Homo sapiens: one gene and its partners. The protein of the gene in region 3 interacts with the protein of the main gene of each other region in a pairwise test. Each region holds a gene or a part of one and is shown on either strand. Other genes may lie near its edges.

Region 1 (7,023 bases), on a different chromosome or scaffold from region 3:
GTGAGTGGACTGAAAAGAACAAATTCTCCTGTAAAAGCTAGAATCAAACCAAGGTCTCTCAGCCACCCCTGATGGAATTCTGAGAGGGACACAATCCTAGAAAGTTCCAGAATTTGTGATCAATCATTCCAACCAGCCCTGTATGCTGTGACATCACACAGCTCAGAAGCTGGCCCTAGGCCAGGTGCAGTGGCTCACACCTATAATCTCAACACTTTAGGAGGCCAAGGTGAAAAGATCGCTTGAGCCCCAGAGTTAGAGATCAGCCCAGACAATACAGTGAGACTCTATCTCTATAAAATATAAAAATATTAGCTGGGCGACGTGGTGTGCACCTATAGTCCCAGCTACTTAGGGGGCCGAAGCAGGACAGCTTGAGCCCAGGAAGTTGAAGCCGCACAGTGAGCCATGTTTGTGCCACTGCCTCCAGCGTGGGCGACACAGCAAGACCCTGTTTCAAAAAAATAAAAAAACAAGAAGCAGCAGCAGCAGCAGCAGCCCCTGTCAGGAGTCCAGACCTGAGACTCAAGCACCAGCTCCATCCCTCCCTAGTTCAGAAGCCAACTACAACTCCAGTCCTGATGGACTTCTCACCTATTCCAACTTCAGCCTAGCTGGGCCTTAGTGACCTGCCGTATTTCACTCCCTCACTCTCCCTCTAGCTCTGACCCTCTCTTCCTTCCTACTCCGGCCCCACAATCCTCACCTCCCTCTAGGTTCCCATTCCTGCACAGGCTCAGACAGAGGAGCAAGGCGGGAAGGAATCAAACACATAATGCCCCGGGTGCAGAATGGTGAAGAAAATGGAACATCTCACTGTGTGACCTTTAGCAAGTCACCTCCCATCTCTGGGCCTTAGTGTATCTGCTAATGAAATACAATGTTTGGGGCTGGGCGTGGTGGCTCACGCCTGTAATCCCAGCACTTTGGGAGGCCGAGGTGGGCAGATCACCTGAGGTCAGGAGTTTGAGACCAGCGTGACCAATAGGAAGAAACCCCATCTCTACTGAAAATACAAAAAATTAGCCAGGCGTGGTGGTATGTGCCTGTAATTCCAGCTACTTGGGAGGCTGAGACAGGAGAATTGCTTGAGCCTGAGAGGTGGAGGTTGCAGTGAGCCAAGATGGCGCCATTGCATTCCAGCCTGGGCAACAAGAGCGAGACTCTGTCTCAAAAAAAAAAAAAAAAAAAAAAAAATGCTTGGATTAGGTGGCTACTAACATCCCTTACCAATTTAAAGCTCTATTATTCTTTTTTTTTTTTTTTTTTTTTTTTGTGAGACAGTTTCACCCTGTTGCCCAGGCTGGAGTGCGGTGGTGCAGGCTCAGCTCACTGCAACCTCCACCTCACTAGTTCAAGCAATTCTCCTGCCTCAGCCTCCCAAGTAGCTGGAACTACAGGTGCCTGCACCACACCGGGCTAATTTTTGTATTTTTAGTACTGACGGGGTTTCACCTTATTGTCCAGGCTGGTCTCAAACTCCTGACCTTGTGATCCACCCACCTCAGCCTCCCAAAGTGCTGGGATTACAGGCATGAGCCACCGCACCCAGTCAACTCTGTTATTCTTTGGGAGAGGTGGGACAGGATTAGGGGCTAGAGGGAAATGGGGAGTCCAGGTTTCATGCAACTGTGCAGTGTATGCGCATGTTGTTTGTATATTCATTCTGCATTGCTCAATGCCTAGAGGTAACTGCGAGTGGAGCAATATGATTGCATCCAGGTACATGCACATTCCAGGCACCTGTGTGGAAACGTGTGTGTGAGAGAGATGGTGAGGGTTTCTAAATGTGTGATTATACATGGTGGACATGTGTGCATCTATGTGCTGAAAAAGGGAGATTTGTGGGTACATGTGGATGTGAGTGCAGTGTGGGTACATGGGTAGACCCATGTGTGCTGGTGAGGTAGGGGTCACCGATGGGGAGTGGGGCTAAAGTGGGCGTAGTGATGGGCAGATGCTGCTGGGGGTCATACTAGGGAGGTGCCCTCTGGCCAAGGAGCCCTTGCTCTAACCCCTAGGCTTGCCTACTTATTCCTCCTGCCCTATGGTCACTCTCACTCCAGGTGGGGCAGATGGAGTTCAGCCACCCTTGGACTTTGGAGAGCTTTCTTTAAAGGGGCTCAAAACTTGGCCGGGCGCGGTGGCTCACGCCTGTAATCCCAGCACTTTGGGAGGCTGAGGCGGGCGGATCACGAGGTCAGAAGATCGAGACCATCCTGGCTAACACAGAGAAACATCGTCTCTACTAAAAATACAAAAACAAAATTAGCCCATCACGGTGGCAGGCGCCTGTAGTCCCAGCTATCTGGGAGGCTGAGGCGGAAGAATGGTGTGAACCCGGGAGGCGGAGCTTGCAGTGAGCCAAGATTGCGCCACTGCAGTCCAGCCTGGGCGACAGAGCAAGGCTTTGTCTCAAAAAAAAAAAAAATTGTTTCAGGGGGCTCAAAAACCTTCTAAAGAATTCCAGTAAGTGAAATAATAGTTACACTTACATAACTTCCTATGCTTTAAGCACTTTACATGCAGCAATACCTTTTCTCAAACAACCCTCTGATAGTTACTCTATTTTGCAGCTAACCTTTGGCTCAGAGGGACTAAGTAGGGAAGAAAACAAGGAAAAAGAAAGCCAAGCACAGTGGCTCACATCTGTAATCCCAGCACTTTGGGAGGCTGAGGCAGGAGGATTGCTTGAGGCCAAGAGTTTGAGACCAGCCTGGGCAGTATGGTGAGACCCCATCTCTACAAAACTTTTTTTTTAATTAGCAGAGCGTGGAGGCATGTGCCTGTAGTCCCAGCTACTGAGGAGGTTGAGGCAGGAGGATCGCTTCAGCCCAGGAGGTTGAGGCTGCAGTGAGCTATAATCCTGCCACTGCACTCTAGCCTGGGTGATAGAGCAAGACTTCATCACTACAAAAATAAATTTAAAATTAAATAAGAAGGAAAAAAAGAATCTTCACAATTTAGATCTAGAGGAGGGCAGGACTGAGGCCCAGAAACAGGTGAAGAGTTTGGACAAGGTAAGAATAAGACTGGGAACAGGATCAAGGCCCTTCCTTCCTTACTCCAGGCTGGTCTGGTTGATCTCTTACAGCTGAAATCACAGCAGGAAGGACTGCATTTAGACTCCACAAGAGACTTCCAAGGGGTTATGCAGAATGCCACATGCCAATGGTCAAAAACAGGGCCCAATACATCTCAGGACAGGACACACCAACCAGGACCATGCAGCCTCAACCCCATCACATCTACTCTGTGGCAGACCCTGAGGATGGATGAGACCTTCACTGCCCTCCTGGGGCTCAGATAGAGACATGACCACAGCCAAGTTAGCATCTGACATGTTTAAATACAACGGAGTGTGAGGCAGGCATGCAGAGCCAACAGAGGACTCACACCTTATAGTGCCCTTCTGCTGAGAAGCAATGACTGAACTGAGGACAGCCCTCCTCCCTTCAGAAGCCACCCGACTCACAAAGCTTATAAATGGGCTGGGGAATGACTCTCCATAAATGCACTGGGCAGTTTCCTCCCACCCCAGTCTGGAATGTGGCCCATGGCCAGGGGAGCCTCTCAGGGAATTAGTCTCCAAACCACAAACATTGCTTGTGATCCACAGGGCCCTGGCCCAGGAAGAAACTCAAACCTGACCCCAAAGCCCTGGGGATCTTCTGGATTGACATCAGGCAAGTCCAGGTTCGGTATTTGAAAAGGGAAAATGTGAGCAACAGTCCTGAGTGACGCAGGTTGCAGAATGTACATCCTAGATCCTGCCTACAATTCCCACAAAGTTCCCTTGTTGACATGATCATCATAGCAGGAGCTGGAGAAAATTGGGCTTGAATAGCAGAGAATCTCATGATCCCCTAGCAAAATGCAAGGAGCACAGAGCTGGACTAAAGAATCTTGAAAGAATCTTCAGGCAGCTTGTTTGCATTTGCGAGTGTTGGCAGGTCAGTATTTATCAACCAGGGCTGATGTGTGAGCCCAGTGGGGTCATGCCCCCTACCCCTCAGGAGGGTGGCATCCGGCTAGCCAAGTTTCAGTCCCATTCCTCTTGCATGAGACTTTTCTGTTTACACAAGAAGAGGGCCTTTTGGATACCTGTCCTCTGGGCAGGCACCCAGAAGAACACAGCAGACACTCTGGCACTAGAGTGCCTTAAAAAGTAAAGCCCAAGCCTCTGGCCAATGACGCACTTCAGCCCCACCCAGGGACATAGAAAGCAGAAACTATTGTTGCATTGATGATGTAATTTCATGCAATAGAAAGGAATGTGGGCTCACTGTACAGAAGCTTCTCTTGGGTCTGTGTGGCAGGGAAAGAACCCAGAAATCCAGCCTTTATCTAGCCACCCCACTCTATCTTCCGACCACCAAAATCCAATGCCTTGTAAAAACTCGGACCAACTTACACCCTGGATCTGAAGTAGAGACAGAGCTGGAGCCTCCGTCTGATTTCACAGCCCACAATTTCCTCCACCATAGTGTGTTGTTCCTCTGCCCGCCACCAGATCATATTAACACAACTCGGTGGCCCAATTGTGTGTTAAACCAGAACCCAAGCTTGGGCCACCCAATTGTGTTCATCTCTCTCCAGCCCCCATCTGCAAGGGCCACCTGTCTTCAAATGCCCCATCAGGGTGATAGAAGGCACTGGCCCAATCCCCATCTCACCCTTTTCTGTTTCTGCTCGGTTTCCTCGTCTATGGCCCACCTCCCTACCCAGAACCTCATCTCCAGGAATCCTAGAGTGTCTTCCTCACCATCCTGTCCCCTGAACCAAGCACTATGAGGCCATTCAGTAAGTATGTGTAGAGTGAATGGATGGATGGAGAATGGAATTCTCAGCTCTGCTGCCCAGAAGCTATGGGCCCCAGGCTAGACTCTTCTGCATGAATGAACCCTTTCTCTCGCTTTCCCCATGGACTCCGGGCTCCCCATCCTAAAGACTCTGGTTCTATAATATCGAATCATCATATACTTAAGTCACATAGACCCTCACAGCAGGAGGGGAGGAGGTTGCTTCCTGGTACTGTTCTCGCCCTGACCCCTCCACCGCAGCCAGGTTTGTCTGTGCTCTGGGAATGGCCTGGAGAATCCGGGTTTAAACTCCTGGCAGCTCAGACCACTCCACAACTTTTTATTGCAGAGAAGTCCCTGGAAAGAAGGGGTGGGAACAGTTCAGAGGGGCAGGGTTCTTGGTCCAGGTAAGCTGGCCACCTCTACCCAATGGCACCAGCGTCCAGGCCATCTGCACTGGGGATGGTCAGTCATAGTCCTGTAAGCTGTGCTCCAACGCCTCACGTCCCGGTGTGGGAGGCAAAAAGGAAAGATGATGTGGGGTCAGCTCTATGGGAGGGGGCATCTGACACAAGAGGGCTAAGTCTTTAGGGCAGAAGCTGAGGGTTCCTTGTCTTCTCCGGAGGGAGGCGGGAAGGGTTCAACATCTGCGGGAGCTGTGTAGCTAAAGCCCACGGACACAGCCGGGAGAGCCGCAGAGCGCGTAGCCGCCGCCAGGGGCGCTCGTCTCCAGGGCGCCGGAGCCTGCTCGGGGCTGGAGCAGGCAGGCGGAGCCCGGCTGAACGGAGGACGACTGTCCGAGGGAGGAAAGCCCTTCCTCCCCCCACCCCAAGCCCCAGAAGACAGACTTGCAGACATCTCCTCCAGATACACAGACCCTCCTCCCCACCAGGAGACAGATGTACAAACTCCCCGAAAGGAACAGGTAAACAGACCTCTCCCCAGAGAACAGACCACAGGACCCCCTTCCCCACACACGCAAACGCAGTCACCCCCGAGAGAAGAAATAGCCCCCGACAAAAGGAGAGGCACAGAGGGAGCTGTCACAGACACAGGAACAGAAACACAGCCCTTCTGCCTTCTCAAGAGGAGGCACGCCAAGGTGTGGACGGGGAAGGAGGGAATAAGGAGAATAAGATAATAAGATAAGATCCGACCATGCCAGCCTACTGTTTACTTACTGATGCTCCTTGCCCCAAATCCCAGACCAAGCCAGCGGAAAGAAGGAAGCAGGTGAGTCCATCTGTCTACTAGGTTTGGTATTCTGCATTCCCCAGGACACACACTCCTGACCCTCCCAGACAGCAGTCCTTCCACCCTGCAAGCTCCCTGGCGCTCTCTGATCACTCCTGCCTTAAATTCATATAACTCACTTTTGTTGATGACTTTTTGGAGGAAAGAGAAGACCAAAAAAAAAAAAAAAAAAACTACACTTTCTTTGGCCTGACTTGATCTTGGAAGGTGAGACCGTGAGGGAACATTTTAAACCTCTACAGGAGACCCCAGAGCAGGTAGCTCCATAATCTGAAGACTAGTGTGTGTCCCTAAAGCTGTCACTTAACCTCTCTGAAACTTACCCCTCATCTGTAAAATGGGGATAATAGGACCTCCCTGCCAGGGTTTTGTGAGGTGTTAAAGGAGGTGATCAATGCAATATGCCTGTGGCATGGGTGATCAGTTCCCCCTCCCTCCCCTAGCCTGGTGACAGCCCTTGTCTCCTACTGTTGTCTACTGAGTTGAAAGCCAAGCCCCACCTGGTCATGTAACCCCACCTTCCCCAGGCCTGGGGAGAGGGGCAGAGTTGAGAAGAAGGCACTTCACACAGAGACCTTATTCCCACTGGCTAGGCCTTGGTCCCTGCAGCTGTCTCCATGGACAAACCGGCCCCTGGTCTCTGATACTGGGGTGGATGACTATGGGTCACCCCGTCCCAGGTGCCAAAAGTACACATCAGCTAGAACTTTTTGTTCAAAGGGCTGTAAGATGGTGAGAGAAACCTAGCTCTAGAGGAACGAGTTCCTGGATACCTAGGTCATCTCTCTCCACCCTTCCCTGGCTGATGAGCGTGGTGCTGCCCTGTGCCCCTGCACTCCTCACTGCAGCCACATCTGAAGCACTTCCCAGCTGACCCATCATCCACTCTCTTCACCCTCCAGCAGCTTGTGGCAGGCAGCAATCTCAAAGTCCAGGCCCCACTTGACGATCACAGCTCTCAGTACTC
Region 2 (7,023 bases), about 140 Mb from region 3:
ACTGTGCTAGGTGTTTTAAATTATCTCACTTACTTGGGTGTTCTTCCCGATTACAGATGGGAAGAATCAGAGAGGCTGAGTAGCCTGCATAAATAAAAAGCCTTTTGTTCATTTATGGTATTACATTGCTGGAACCTTAAAATCAGGAAGTGTAGGAAACCACGTGCTTTTCCTACACAGGCTGCTTGCTGCCTGAAAGCAAGGATTGCAATTTAGAAATCCTTAGAATCTCTTCTGTCTCAAAGCCCTTAACAGTACTATGCATACCATAAATAAATGTTCAAGATATGTTTGTGGACTGACATGAAATGATAAAATAGTATAGGTGGATTGATTATTATAATAGGTATAGTGTTACCTACATACCACTCAAACCATTAATGGGAACATCCTCCCTCAATTTTAGATAATATTTTACCTAATAGACATATCTAAAATCCTCAGTAAAGCTGCCTGTTTATTCCTGAGTTGCCACACATGCACCACACTTATTGGAGTCATCTGATGTCATGTACATGTGCCTGGTCAAATGATTGCTAACAGAGAAGTGTGAGGAGAACCATCTGCCTTGTGGTCCTAAAAAAAATAGATGGTCCCATAACAGGGTAACCAATTCTGATCTGCTACATAATCAGGTGGAACCTCTTTTGTCAGAGGTTTATAACTGGAAACCCCACCACTTTCAATTAATTATAAGCGAGGTCAAATTGATTTTAGCCCTTTGTCCATCATCCAGTTAGGAAGATTCTGCTTGTCTAGAGTGGCAGAGTTGCAAAACAAAAGGGGCATATTCTCCAGGCATCTTTCTGAACATTCTAAATATGTAGTTAACCCACCATTGTCAAAACTAAAATATACTATGTATTAAAGAAAGCTTTGATTCACCTGTCGTTCTGAGTATACCAACTTCTAAATTAACTCTAGTGAAAACTAAGTATCATGAGCAAAAAGAAAAAAAAAATACATACTTCAGACTTTAATATATTCTTCAGCTTGTTAACCTCCAAATTAGTATCTTGAACCTTCTGTTTTATGTCATTAAGTTCATTATGAGTGTCATTCAATTTTTTGGACAGTGCCTACGAAAAAAAGATAGGTATATTTGACTATGAAAAATAAAAAATTTCTATATCTCAAAAATACCATAAACAAATTTTTAAACACTTGGAACAAATAAAATTAACATACCTAATATATAAACTCATATAAAAAAAGAAAACACATAAGCCCAATAGCAAGTGGGCAAATGACCCAAATAAGCAATTCAAAAAAGGAAGCATAAGTAGGTAAGACCTGAAAAAAACTCTACTAGCAACTGAAGATATGCTAATTAAAACAACACATTACTATTCTGCTTATCAAATTAATAAAGATTTAAAGCTATTCAGCTATGGTAAAGAATGGGCATTTCCATGTACTACTGGAGTAAATGTAGATTTGCAGAAAGCAAATCTGTGATCAGGAATCTGGTGATGTATCAAGAGACAATTTTTAAATGCTCATAAAAACAAGAAAGACAAAAATGTTGATTATTTTTGAAGGTGGGAAATGGCACATGGGGATTCATTATATTTGAAAATGTCTATTTACATTTTTTTAATTTAAAAAAGAAACCTCAGCTGGGTGTTTTTCCTGTAATCCTGGCACTTTGGGAGGATCACTTGAGCCTAAGAGTTTGAGACCAGCCTGAACAACATAGTGGGAACCCAACTCTACAATAAATAAATAAATAAATAAATAAATAATAATTAAAAAGAAACCTGATAATCTGTGATTCACTCTGAAATGAAATCTAATAAAATTTAATGAGATGCTGTCATTAAGGCATTTGTTACAGTGACAATATTTATTCACATTAAGTGAATCATGCAGTAAATAATAGTATATCTACATAGTGGCATAACCACATAATGGAATATTACATACCTGTGAGAAATGTTTGGAATGATTTTTAATAATACAGGGAAATATTTGCCTATGTTAAGTGAAAAAAAAATCGTGCTAAAACACAAAAATACCTCATTATCCCAATTTGTTAAAAATTGTGGTATCAAGGATAAATTTTTTTTAAGTTTCCACTTTCTCGTCTTCTGCAATACTGGTTCTTAACCTGTGGTCCACAGAGAGAGACCTCTCTTCTACCTTGGGCCTATGACCATAACGAAGAAAAAACTACTTTTGAGCATATGTAAATTGTTATGACAACAGTTTTCTTCTGATTATAAAAAATGTTTACAAAGTTTGAACAAGGCAGGAAAATGCTTACAATATTATAGTAAGCTAATAATAGCTATAAAATATTTATTGAGTGATATACTGGACAGTACAGTAAGTGCTTTCCAGGTATAGTCTCACTTATTAACCATTTTTACAGATGCTACAGAGACTCAGAGAAGTTGGTTTATATGATCACACACGCAGAGAGCAAGATTCAACCCATGTGAATCTTACTCGACTCTACTGCCTCTTCATGTAGAAAAAAGCATGATCTAAAGTGATAGGTGATTTTATCCCACTACATTAGAAAATGTGTATAAAAATAGTGTTAAAATTTTTAAGTGCACTGTATAGCAATTAAAAAAATATGTCAAATATAACAGTAACTGAGTATCAAAAACATGGGGGCTTTTCTAAACTCTTAACTTTTTGTTTAGAAAAAAGACTTTCTATAATAAGCTTCTATTTCTAAACCAATCAAAAAAATAGAAACTAAATTTCTAGGTTTTCATAAATAAGATATATCCACCTTTAGCCCATATGCTCTAGCTGTAAAGAGTACACAAAGGCAAACCTTACAAATTCCCATGTTTTGGTTTTTATTGCTATTCATTAATTTTTTAAATAAACTTTTAGAATAGTTTTAGATTTACAGAAAAGTTGTGAAGACATTATAAAGGGCACCTCTATTGTTAACATTTTACATTAGTATGGTGCATATGTCACAATTAATAAGCCAATATTGACACATTATTATCTGAAGTCCATACTTTATTCAGATTTCTTTCCTTTTTTACATAATGTCCTTTTTCTATTCCAGGATCCCATTATTCATTTACTTTTAAACAAAATACTTTAACATCTCAGATAATTTTTTATGATTAACAAAGTATTACAGCTTTATAGCTGTTTAAGTAAATTAATAATCTTCAACAGTTAAAGAACACAGACTTTCAGGATGCAAACTAAACACACTGAAAGTGATACAAAGTGGGGAAAACCATTTGGTCTTAAAAATTTTGAGAAGGGAAGAAATTTTCCAAATAGGATTTTTAAATGTTCACGTTAAAATAAATGTTATTGGAAATGAGAACTGCAGATTAGACTTAAATATATTGCCTTAGGGAGAAAGAGTAATTATAAGAGGAACTTTCCTAAAAAGAATCACAGTGCTAATGAGAACCAAAAAACAAGGCACAGTCCATACATTCATACTTAAAACAGAATAATATGTAGTCCATTTTTTTAAAAAAAAAACACCTATTCTTTTCTTTAAGGTTTCTCAAGGTTTTTATTCTCATTTTTTGATTATTCAAATATTTATCCTTCAGCAAGGAAGTACTAAGCTTTAATACAAATATAGCCCTGTTCTCTCTTTTCTTTAATATTTAACCCTTTGTGTCTGAGAATTCCATTTAAAAATTATGTGGCCTATTTTGTTATTTTTTAAAAAAAAGAAAAGGCTAGTTCCAGTGTCTGAGCTCTTCTATAAAATAAAATGAGGGCTGTTCCTCACAAGAAATTCATATTTTTTTTTCTTGGAGAAAATGATTCTAGGAACAAGTGTACCTGGTTTTCTTGTTTAGCTTTAGCAAACTGTTCCTGGAGATTGTCATTGTCATGAGCCAAGATATCTCTTTCCCTGGCGATCTGGGCCAGCTCATCATTTGTCTCATCCAATTGCCGACGCATTCTGGAAACGTCTTGTTCACACACAATTAGGGCCTCAGTACACTGTCTATTCCACAAATCAAAGAGTACATAAGAAGAGACATTTTACTGAAACAGAGCAACAAATTCTCACAAGACAGAAGATGGACAGTTAGTATGAAAACATTTGAAGAGATTTTAAACACGTTTGAATTTATAGGAATAAATACTGCAAAGACAGTGCATTAGAGTTTCTCAATGTTGCCATCATTTCGCTATGAAAAGGATACAAAGTATACATAATAGTCAATGATTTGCCAAATATTTCAAAACTTCTTACATCAAGTATTAGGAAGGCTTTCATCCTACTTCTGTTATGGCTTAGTCTCCTTTACAGATTCCTCTTCCTCTGCCCACTTAAAAATTAATGCTTTTCAGGGCTCAAGCCCTAGCCTCCCAATTATTCTCACTCTAACCCTTCTCTCAGACAAACTCTATTCATATCCATGGTTCCCAACCCCATCTAGATCCAATGACTCCAAAATAATTATCTCCAGTTTTAGACCCTCTGTTATACTCCAGACTTATATTTAACTGCTTACTAGACATGTCTACAATAAGGTCCCAAAGGTTCTTCAAATTCAGAGGTAAAATCATTTTTTCTCCTCATACTTTCTTCATGTTCAGTATTTGTCCCTGGCCAGAAACTTGGCATTTTCCTGGTGTCTCTCCCTCATACAAAAGCATTTCACTCCTTCTGTCCCACAACTCCTAAACCCCAATTTATCACCACCTCTTCTGCTTAGGTATCTTTCTAACACAAAATTCTCCTCAGAATTCTTTAATGATTTCTTATTGCCCAAAGGATATAACCAATACTCATTTGTCTGTTACACAAGCCTCTGCCTGCCTATTTAGTCTCCTCCCTTCACTTCTCCCCTTACACTCTAGGTTTCAACAACACTCACCCACTTGTAGGTCAAGAGGCTTGTCAACATGATCTGTGGTTCTTTGCTATTCTTTCTACTTTAAATGCCCTTCCCTTCCCCTTATTTTACTTGGCAAACACCATCCCCTCTTTTAGTTCCTTAGACAGACTTAGGCCTCCTTTGATGAGAGAGTTAGCACCTTACACGTATCATTAAGCCCCTTGTTTCTTACTATCTTTGTACCTAACATGGTACTTGGCCCCCCAGTAAGAGCTCATATATTTGTTGCACGACTGATTTACCTTGATGCCTGTTCCATCTCAGCAATGATATTCTTCATGCCTGAAATGGTCTTTTCCTTGAAAAATAATATAAGTATTAAATAAAAAAATCTTAAGCTGTTATTTCTGTTAAAATTGAATGAACAAAAAGAAAATTTCCCTTTCCCTTTAGGTTTCCATTTGGTTTTAAAAACATGTATGTCCTATTCTTTTCCACACTTTAAAGCCTAGTATATCAATGTGAATATTTGCACTGGGTAAAAATAGATTATGTTCATTAAAGTAAAGGCTATACTTAGGTGTAATTATGAGATCAGTATATCAAATTCTTTGTCAAAAGATATTTTATGCAGTCACCCAGCAATACAAGAACCCTATAACCACCTGTTTTTGGAGGCAAACCAATGGTTTGGCATTGGAGTATTGGCATTTTATACTGGGATTTAGAACTGGTTCTCTTGCTCACATTCTTTATGTTATAAAACCCAGAGAAGCCAATCATGTATACCTAAATTTAGTTTTTAAGAATAATTTTGATTAAGTGTATTATTTATATTAGCCAGCAACAAAATCTTCAAAAAGCTGTTCCAATCCAATTACTTATAGAAGTATACTACTGATATTTAGGTGAGAGCTAATAAGAAGGTAAGCATTAGGCCTCGAGCAAAGGTAAGAGAAATAAACTATATTTTCCTTTTTCAAAGGCGTGATGAGGGAGTAGAAGTAGTGGAGTCAGTCAAGGCAGAAATGGGTTTGAATATCTTAATGCCTTTAATACCATTCCCACACCTCTTTTTAAAACTTCCATTGACCCTGAACTAGTCCAACTATAAACAGATACTTAGAGCTAACATTAGCCCTAAAAAAGTAAGAAAGTTATTTCACTAAGTAATAACTAGATTTCACCTTGCCATTTGAATTTTCAAATTTTAAGTAACTAAGTAAAAAGATTTTTAAAAACCCAAACCTATATTTTCCAACCAATTCTGTTCCTGTTTCTTTTCTTTTTTTTTTTTTTTTTTTTTTTTTTTTTGAGATGGAGTTTTGCTCTTGATGCCCCGGCTGGAGTGCGAGGGCGCGATCTCGGCTCACTGCAACCTCCGCCTCCCAGGTTCAAGCGATTCTCCTGCCTCAGCCTCCCAAGTAGCTGGGACTACAGGCATGCGCCACCATGCCCAGCTAATTTTTTGTATACTTAGTAGAGACGGGGTTTCACTATGTTGGCCAGGCTGGTCTCAAACTCCTGACTTCAAGTGATCCACCCACCTCGGCCTCCCAAAGTGCTGGGATTACAGGCGTAAGCCACTGCGCCCGGCCGTTCCTATTTCTTTAGCGTTAGTTTTACACATATTTGCGTGTGTGTGTGTGTGTGTGTGTGTGCTATCTTCCTTTATTCATGTGCTCTTCTCCAGGGTATTTTTAGCTACAGTTTCCCATTCTGCTTTCTCATGGAATGGTACAGATTCCACATCTGGCAGTAATAGATACTGGTGTGTTGTTAAAATATGCATTAAAAAAAAAGTTAAACCCCTTCAAGAAGGACAAGCCAACGAAGGAAAAACTAAAAGACAAAATACTCCATAAAATGGAATGTTTACACATTTTTGAAATATAATTTAATACATTTCTAAACAAATTCTGAAAAGCTAGTTGAACTAGTGCTTTTGAAAGTCTTTACTTGAGGCCGAATGCGGTGGCTTATGCCTGTAATCCCAGCACTTTGAGAGGGTGAGGCAGGCGGAACACGAGGTCAGGAGTTTGAGACCAGCCTGACCAACATGGTGAAACCCCATCTCTACTGAAAATACAAAAATTAGCCGGGTGCAGTGGTGGGCGCCTATAATCCCAGCTACTCAGGAGACTGAGGCAGGGAATCACTTGAACTCGGGTGGCGAGGGTTGCAGTGGGCTGAGATTGTGTCACTGCACTCCAACCTGGGTGACAGA
Region 3 (7,913 bases):
GAGGCCCTGGCCGCCTCCTTCCTTCCCGTTGCCTTCAGCCACCTCAGCAACGGCATCCTTGACATCAGTAAAGATGAAGGGGAAGGTGATGGAGGCCTCTTTAGTGGCCACAGGGCCATCGGTGGGCTCCGAGAGGGTGTTGGTGAAGATGCTGGTGAGGGAGGAGGGGAAGGTGAGGGAGCCCTCCCCGCTGGCCGAGAGGCCCACACAGTAGAACACGGTTGGCGTGTGTTTCCCCACAGGGACGAGGCCATTGTTGAGGGAGATGGGGCCCCAGCCCTGGGCCACGCCAACCGGGCTGCAGAGGGAGCCCCGGCCTTTGAAGAGGAAGCCCTTGAGCTCGAAGGTCTGGATGCTGCTGCCGAGGAGGCCGGGGCCGTGGAAGAGGGGGTCTCCAATGGCCACCGGGAAGCCTTTGCCCCCAGGCATGGCCACTGAATCCCCAGACAGGAAGATGGAGCCCTGGCCGATGACCAGGGCCTCACAGCTGCCAGTCACAGGGAGAGAGGCCCCCGCAGGGGGGGCAGGGCCCTCAGCGATGGGCACCTGGTCATTGCTGGTACCCACAAGGGAGAAGGGGATGGCGATGACAACGCCACCCTTGCCAAGGTCGTCGCCAGGGGTGGACAGCGGTTTGCCCCTGGAGACGGTGCCAGTGCCACCCCAGGCCGTGGCGGGGAAGTTGCCTTTTGTGGCGTTGGCGCTCCAGGCGGGGTCTGGGGCCTTCTGGAGGAAGCAGACCCCCAGCTCACAGGCCTCACAGCAGCCCTCATAGGCCTCCCTGGGGTGCCGGGCTGGGCCGGGGCCATCCCCGTAGCAGTCCTGCAGGATGTGCAAGACCAGCCTGCTGAGGAAGGGCTGCTCGCCCGGGGGCCTCACCTGGCAGTCCCCGGGTGCGGGGCACAGCCTGCACCGCTGGCCCCAGATGCGCATCTTCACCAGCCCCCGGTGGCTGGCCCTGTCCCACCACAGGTGGAAGAGGACGTGCACATGGGCCGAGTCCCAGGTCCCCGGACAGTGACCGCACTGGAGCCTGCGGCGGGGAAAGAAGTGTGTGTGAGTGCAGGAGAAAGAGGCCCCACGCCCAGCCCTCGCACTCTGCTCTGCGGCCTCCTTGCCCATCCGACCCCAGCGCCTCGCTGCCCCCTGCCTCACATCCCACACTCAAACCTCAAACCTCACCCCCCAGCCACCCAGGGCCGCGGCCAAGGCAGCCTAGCACCTGCTCCTGCCTGTGCCGAGGCTCTGAAACCACCAGCCCCTCGGCCACACACAGGCAAAAGCAGGCCCATGCGCACTAGCCCGCAGCCCCCTCATGTGGAGCACTGAGAAGCAAAGCAAACCTCCTCTCAGCAGTTTTTCAACAAAACCCGCTCCAGCCTGGCCTCCGTGAGGCGTCGGCAGCCTGCCACCTGCGTGGCTCTGCTGGTGTTTTGTGAGTTGGGGTTAACACAGGAAGAGGCAGGCCTGCCGACACACTTAGGAGGGGAAAAGCATGCATGTGGGGGCTGTCCCTGGGGGCTCAGCAAGTGGGGGTCCCTGTCCTGACTGAGAGGAGGCGATCCAGGAGGTCGCCTGCCAGCTGAGGGGAAGGATGTCACGGAGGCCTGCGGTCATGGCCCGGGCAGCCCTGCTGGGCGTCACCAGGCGAGGAGAGGTTTGGGGAGAGCACTGGGAGGGATTGGCTTGTCCATGGCGGTCATCAGACCGGTGACCATTTGCTAGCCACACAAGCAGCTGTGAGCTTCAGGGAACCCTGCATGAGTGAGAGGCTATGATTCAGTTCCAGGCAGTGGAAGTTTCTGGATGACAGAATGTTCTATAGCCACACTGCCCTGCCTGCAGCCTCCAACCACACTGGCCACAGAGCCCGTGGACACGTTCGTGCTGGAGGAACTGAACTGCTGACTTTATTTAAATGGGACTGAGGAGCCAAAGCCACGGGCGCTGGGGCTGCATGTTGGGGCAGCCGTCCTCAGTTCTCTCCCGCCAGCTGGGAGCCGCTCAGAGCCATCTCCACCTGGCTGTGGGAACAGTGATGTGCTTCCCAGCACTTCTCAGACCCCAACACGGGTTATTACTTTCCCAGCTTCTGAAAAAGCTGGGATTCTGCACACACCTGGCCCCAGGGGTCTCAGGCACTGAGGAGCTGTGTCAAAGGGCAGGACGACTCCCCCTTTGCCCAGGGTGTCTCCACAGAGGGACGGACCAGCCAGCAGCCTGGGGGCCTGTCAGGCCGGGCATCTGCGAGGATGTGGAGCTGCCCCGCGCCCCTCCCAGCTGGCACCCGGCCGAGCTGTGGATGCCTTGCCAGTTGGAGAAGCGCATGGCGCCCGCCCTGCTGCGCTGACGGCACCACAACCGTGATGACGGCCTGTGAGGCTCACTTGTGACCCACAGCCACCCCGGGCCCCCGATCAGGGCCGAGCACCCCGCTGTGTGCAACACAGGGCCGGATGGTGACCACAGGCTCCGGCACGCCCCAGGGCCCACCTGTCAGCACTGATGGCTGCGAGACCACGGCAGTGCCATGGAAGCAGGAGATGAGCCTGTGTCCAAGGGCAGCGCTGGCCCAAGGAGCCGAGTGAGGGAAACCAAACTCTCCATGAGGCACCCGCCATGTCTTCCCCGGGACCCCTGCGTCAGCAGCCGTGTGCCCAGCATGGCGAGGCAGGGGCTCCGGCGGGAGAAGGAGCACCCAGCCCCACCCTCCCGTCTCGGGGACAAGACGAGGCCCAACAGCCCCACCCAGCCTCTGGGACCACCCAAGGTCCCGTGGAAAAGCACCTTCAGCCCCCTGCCTCTCCCAGGGTCCCCAACCTCTGGCCGCACCTCGAGAGCCCCACCAGCAGGTACTGGACACCACCGCCGTCCAGGCATCCCGGGACCAGGCTGTGCTCAGGTAGCAGAACCCAGACGTCCTGGGGCTTCCTCTCGGCCATGGCCAGGGTGAAGGTGCTGGCCCACATGTCTGCCCCAGCCCGGTCCATGCTGCCGCCTGGCTCCGCAGTGTGGGCTGAGGGCTGCGCCCGCCGGGGGCCCAAGGAAACGTCCCCGCATCCCGCGCCGGCCAATCAGCCACCTTGACAACAGCATGGTCTCCATGGCAACCAGATTTGTCTCCGAGAAATGGGAAGCAGAAAGGAAAAATACAATACAATGCAATCTCCCATGACCCCGCCCCCCAGAGAGCATCCCTGTGGCAGCACCGTGGTGGTGGTGGTGGGCGTGGGCCCGTGGACACGCAGGGGCCTCCCCAGACCCGTGCGTGTAGAGGCCCGGGTGTTTTCACACATCGCACCAAGGAATCATCCACAGCCCTCTCTTTCTAGTGCACATCAGGAGCGGTGGCCCACACTCATCCCTTGCTGAACACTTGGTATTTTTCCAGCTTGTGGCTATCATGTAACTTATTCACTCAGCTTCTCTCTGCAAACAGCACTAATGCTTTTCACACAAACAAAGCTGAGAAGAACTTTATAGAACGTGTATCATTGCAGATTGTCCCGTGGGTGTATTCTCTTAAACTTTTTACTAGTGAGAAATATAAAATATTTACATAAAATGCCTAAAACATAAATGCAGAGCTTCACAAATTATTCTAAAGTCTTAAGTCACCACGTCCTATAGGAAGAAACAAAACCTCGCTCTGCCAGCCTCCAGAGCTGGCTGCCTGTTCCCTCCCGATCTCAGCCCGCGGCCCCACCCCCACCCCCTGCCCTCCTGGCAGAGGTGCCACCAGCCTGGCCGTGCCTGCACAGACAACGTTGAGGCTTCAACACCTATGATGCCTCCCTCACCGAGCCCTTTAGCTGTGCAGCTTCTGAGCTTTACATAAACAATTCATGCATGTGCCCAGCTTCTCACGCCTTTTCAGGTTGTTTAATTTCTGAGATTCAACAGCATTGCTGTGCGTGGCAGCCACCTGTCATGGCACAACAAGAAAGGGTGAGCTGAGAAGGAGCCGGGACGTGCAGGGGCGGAGACAGCCAGCTGATCCCTGCAAAACCTCAGCACAGATCTGCCCCCGGGAGGCTCCCGGCCACCCGGCTCTCCTCACAGCTCCCATCTCGCCATCTCTCTGCCCTGCACACTGAACAATCTCTTCTCATTTTTCTACCACTTCACACATTATCTCCTCGTCTCTGTCGACTCTGCAGCTAATGCTGGCAAGCGCCTTGTCATAGTTTTCATTTCTGAACCTTCTTTTCGGCCCTTTCAAACCTGTGACATCTTCCCGCCTTGCAGCTAGGTGTGACTGCAAGATAGAAGAGGAAGCCAGTGGGACGCACTCTGGGAAGGGGCCTCCATACAGGGCCAGACTGCCAGGGAAAGCCCCGCGTTTCTCATCCCAGCTTCATTTTCTTCTATCCATCAGTGCTGGGATGATGGCCGCACTCCAGCCTGTCTTAGACCTGCCTCAAGCACAGAGCTGTGAGCCCAAGGAGCAGGAAGGCGGGAGCCCGGGGCTGTGGTGACAGATGGAGTCGTCACACCACTGGAGGGTCGCCCACCTCTGGGTTTCCTGTTCACACGAGAAGTAAGCCAGCTGCCACTGTGGTCTCGAGGCACTGTTCTCTGGCACTGTGGATGATCACACAGCTAGCCGGAGCAATCCTAACTCACTCGCCGGGCTGTATCTAAGGTCCTGGGGTTTGCTGGTTGGCTCCGGGCCACTGTGCGTGTGTGGGCCCCTTGTGGTCCTGGTCGTGTGCCCCCGCAGGGGTCTAAGAGACACCTACTGTCCACTTGCCTCCAAAAGCCTCGGTCCACAGGGGTCCCTGCAGAGGACCTCCTCCCACCACAGCCCCCCAGAGCCAGTGTTTCCTGGCTGCTTCCGTGCCACGCTGGGGCCACAGCCCTGCCTGCCAGTCCCACCTCTCAGGCTCCTCAGCCCTGGAGGCCACACCTGGCTCTGAGTTTAGGGAAAAGCTTTGGAATGATGACTGACCACAGTCACCCAAAATAACCTTTTGGATGGCAATTCCGGCCCTTATGAAATGCAGGGAGCTGGTTGCCCGGGCATTATTCGCTCAAGAATTGTTGAGTTTTCCTTAGACCCATCCCAGAACACCTCCAGAGGCCTGGGCGGCAGACAGCAGAGAGGGCATCCTGTCCACGCCTCTGTCTGACTGCCCATTTGTCTGTCTCCCAAACCCACAAGCCACGCCCTGCAAGAGCTGCTTACGTGGCCCCCTCACAAATCAGCCAGCCATGAGCACCCCCTCTTCTTCGGCGGGGATGGATGAGGCAGGTTGTGCACAGCACCCACGGGTCCCTGCAACATGTGGCAGGGTCCTCCTTGGGCCTTCTGCATCAGCGCCCACCTGGAGCCGGCCACTGGAGCCTCTCTCCAGGCATGTGTGGTCCCTCCAAGGACAGGCCCTAGGACCCAGGCCTGGGGCAGACGCCTTCTGACCCCGCTCCCTGCCCAGCCTCCCCGAAGGCTGGCTCCAGGACAGGGTGAGATGGGGGTGGGAGATTGGGCCACAGGGAAAAGAAACGATCAGGGGAAGCCGGGTGCCCCTTCAGCACTGCTGCCCACCTGGTGTGGTGGCTTAGCGCTCCCTCTCCCCGCAGACACGCGCTCCTTCTGGGGCCCCTTCCTCACACGCTGGTACCCGTCTTCCTGAGCTCAGCTTCTGGGGAGGGCAGCTGGCAGGCCGGGGACAGCCCTCCCTTGGGAAGCAGAACTTGCAGCTCAGGTGAGTCCCACCACAGTCTCCTGCCAGAACGGATGCACTGCCTGGGCCTGGAGGAGCAGAGGCAGCAGCTCCCGGCGAGGGAGGAGCAAACGCCAAGGCCCGGTGGGGCCAGAGGACCGGTCGGCTGACGGGATGGTGGTCCTTGCTCAGAGGGAGAAAGAGACGGGCAGGAAAAGGAGCCGAGCAGAGAACGGTGGCCGTTCGCAGGTGCTGGGGCTCACCCTCCCCCCACAGACCTCAGCTGGGGCTCACCCTCCCAACACAGACCTCAGCTCGTGGCTGCAGCGGCAGGGACAAGGCCGCCTCCCAGACCCCAGGCCCTGCAGTCCCACAGGCCCCACCGGCAAGGGGTTGTTCCTGGCCCAAGGCTCCGTGTGGCTCTGCCCCAGCGCTGCCCAGGCGGGCAGGGATCCCAGGACCGGCAGCTGGTGGGGGGACGCAGCCTCTGTCCAGCCATTCTGTTGCTGAAAGCGCTTCCACTGTCCAAGAGGCCCCTTGCTCTCCCCTCCAACCCGCAGTCCTGCTGGGGCTGGGGAGGCCATTCCGAAGGAGGAATGCAAGGGACCTCCTGCACTCGCCCTCGGAGCATCCCTCCCTGGGGGACCGCTCACTCACGCTGCTCATCCCCCGCAGCTCAGCATCCCCCGCAGCTCAGCATCCCCCGCAGCTCAGCATCCCCCGCAGCTCAGCATCCCCCGCAGCTCAGCATCCCCCGCAGCTCAGCATCCCCCCGCAGCTCAGCATCCCGCGCAGCTCAGCATCCCGCGCAGCTCAGCCCGGGTTCTTCGGCTTTGGAGCCCAGCAGGGGGACCAGCAGGGGGACCAGCAAGGGGCCTGAGTGACACCCACTGCCCTGGAGTGAGAAGGCAGGGGCGCCACACACACACAGGACACCACACACCACACACCACACACACCACACACACTACACATACCACACACACACTACACACACCACACACACCACACAAACACCACACATGCCACACACGCCACACACACCACACACTACAAGCCACACACACCACACACTACACACACTACACATACCACACACACTACACACACCATACACTACACACACCAGACACACTACACACACCACACCACACACACCAAACACACACATCACACAAACCATACACAACACGCACTACACACACACACTCTACACACACCACACACAGCACACACACCATACCACATACACCACACACACTACACACACCACACGCACCCACACACACCACACACTACACACACCACACAACCAAACACCACACATGCCACACATGCCACACAAACCACACACTACACCAGACACCACACACACCACACAACCAAACACCACAAGACACATATGCCACACACACCACACACTACACACCACACACTACACACACCACACACTACATACACTACACACATCACACACTACACACACCACACACTACACACACCACACATAAACGCACATTACACACACCACACACACACACTACACACACCACACTTACAACACACACCACCCTACACACACATCACACAAACCATACACAACACACACTACACACACAACACACTCTACACACACCACACACAGCACACACACCATACCACATACACCACACACACTACACACACACCCACACATCACACACACTACACACACACAACACATTACACACACCACACACAGTACACACACCACACACACTACACACACCACACACAAACGCACACTACACACACCACACAACCAAACACCACACACACCACACACTACACCACACACCACACACTACACATACCACAAACACACACTACACACACCACAGAAACACCACACATTACCGCACACACCACACACACTACACATACCACACACAAACACACACGCCAAACACGCCACACACAGTACACACACCACACACACTACACAACCAAACACCACACACACACTACACACACGACACACACCACACACACGACACACACCACACACTACATAAAAACACTACACACACCACACACACCAAACACCACACATGCCACACACACACCACACACACTACACTACACACCACACACACTACACCCACCACACACACAACACACCACACACACCACACACTACACCACACAACACACACAACACATACTACACACACCACACACACACTACACCCACCACACACCACGTACACA

The links.
Region 1: the proteins of RTP5 (region 3) and KRT86 interact in binary tests that used the Homo sapiens proteins (3 or more experiments, as listed by UniProt).
Region 2: the proteins of RTP5 (region 3) and TSGA10 interact in binary tests that used the Homo sapiens proteins (3 or more experiments, as listed by UniProt).

The regions. Positions count from the first base shown.
Region 1 is NC_000012.12:52,277,645-52,284,667, reverse strand, and holds part of KRT86 (keratin, type II cuticular Hb6), read right to left. Parts: intron 5,728-7,023; exon of another isoform or gene 5,512-5,727; intron 1-5,511.
Region 2 is NC_000002.12:99,067,920-99,074,942, forward strand, and holds part of TSGA10 (testis-specific gene 10 protein), read right to left. Parts: intron 5,155-7,023; coding exon 5,099-5,154; intron 3,956-5,098; coding exon 3,787-3,955; intron 1,080-3,786; coding exon 969-1,079; intron 1-968. UniProt on the Homo sapiens protein: Plays a role in spermatogenesis. When overexpressed, prevents nuclear localization of HIF1A.
Region 3 is NC_000002.12:241,864,834-241,872,746, reverse strand, and holds the start of RTP5 (receptor-transporting protein 5), read right to left. Parts: upstream 3,019-7,913; 5' UTR 2,991-3,018; coding exon 2,833-2,990; intron 1,034-2,832; coding exon 1-1,033.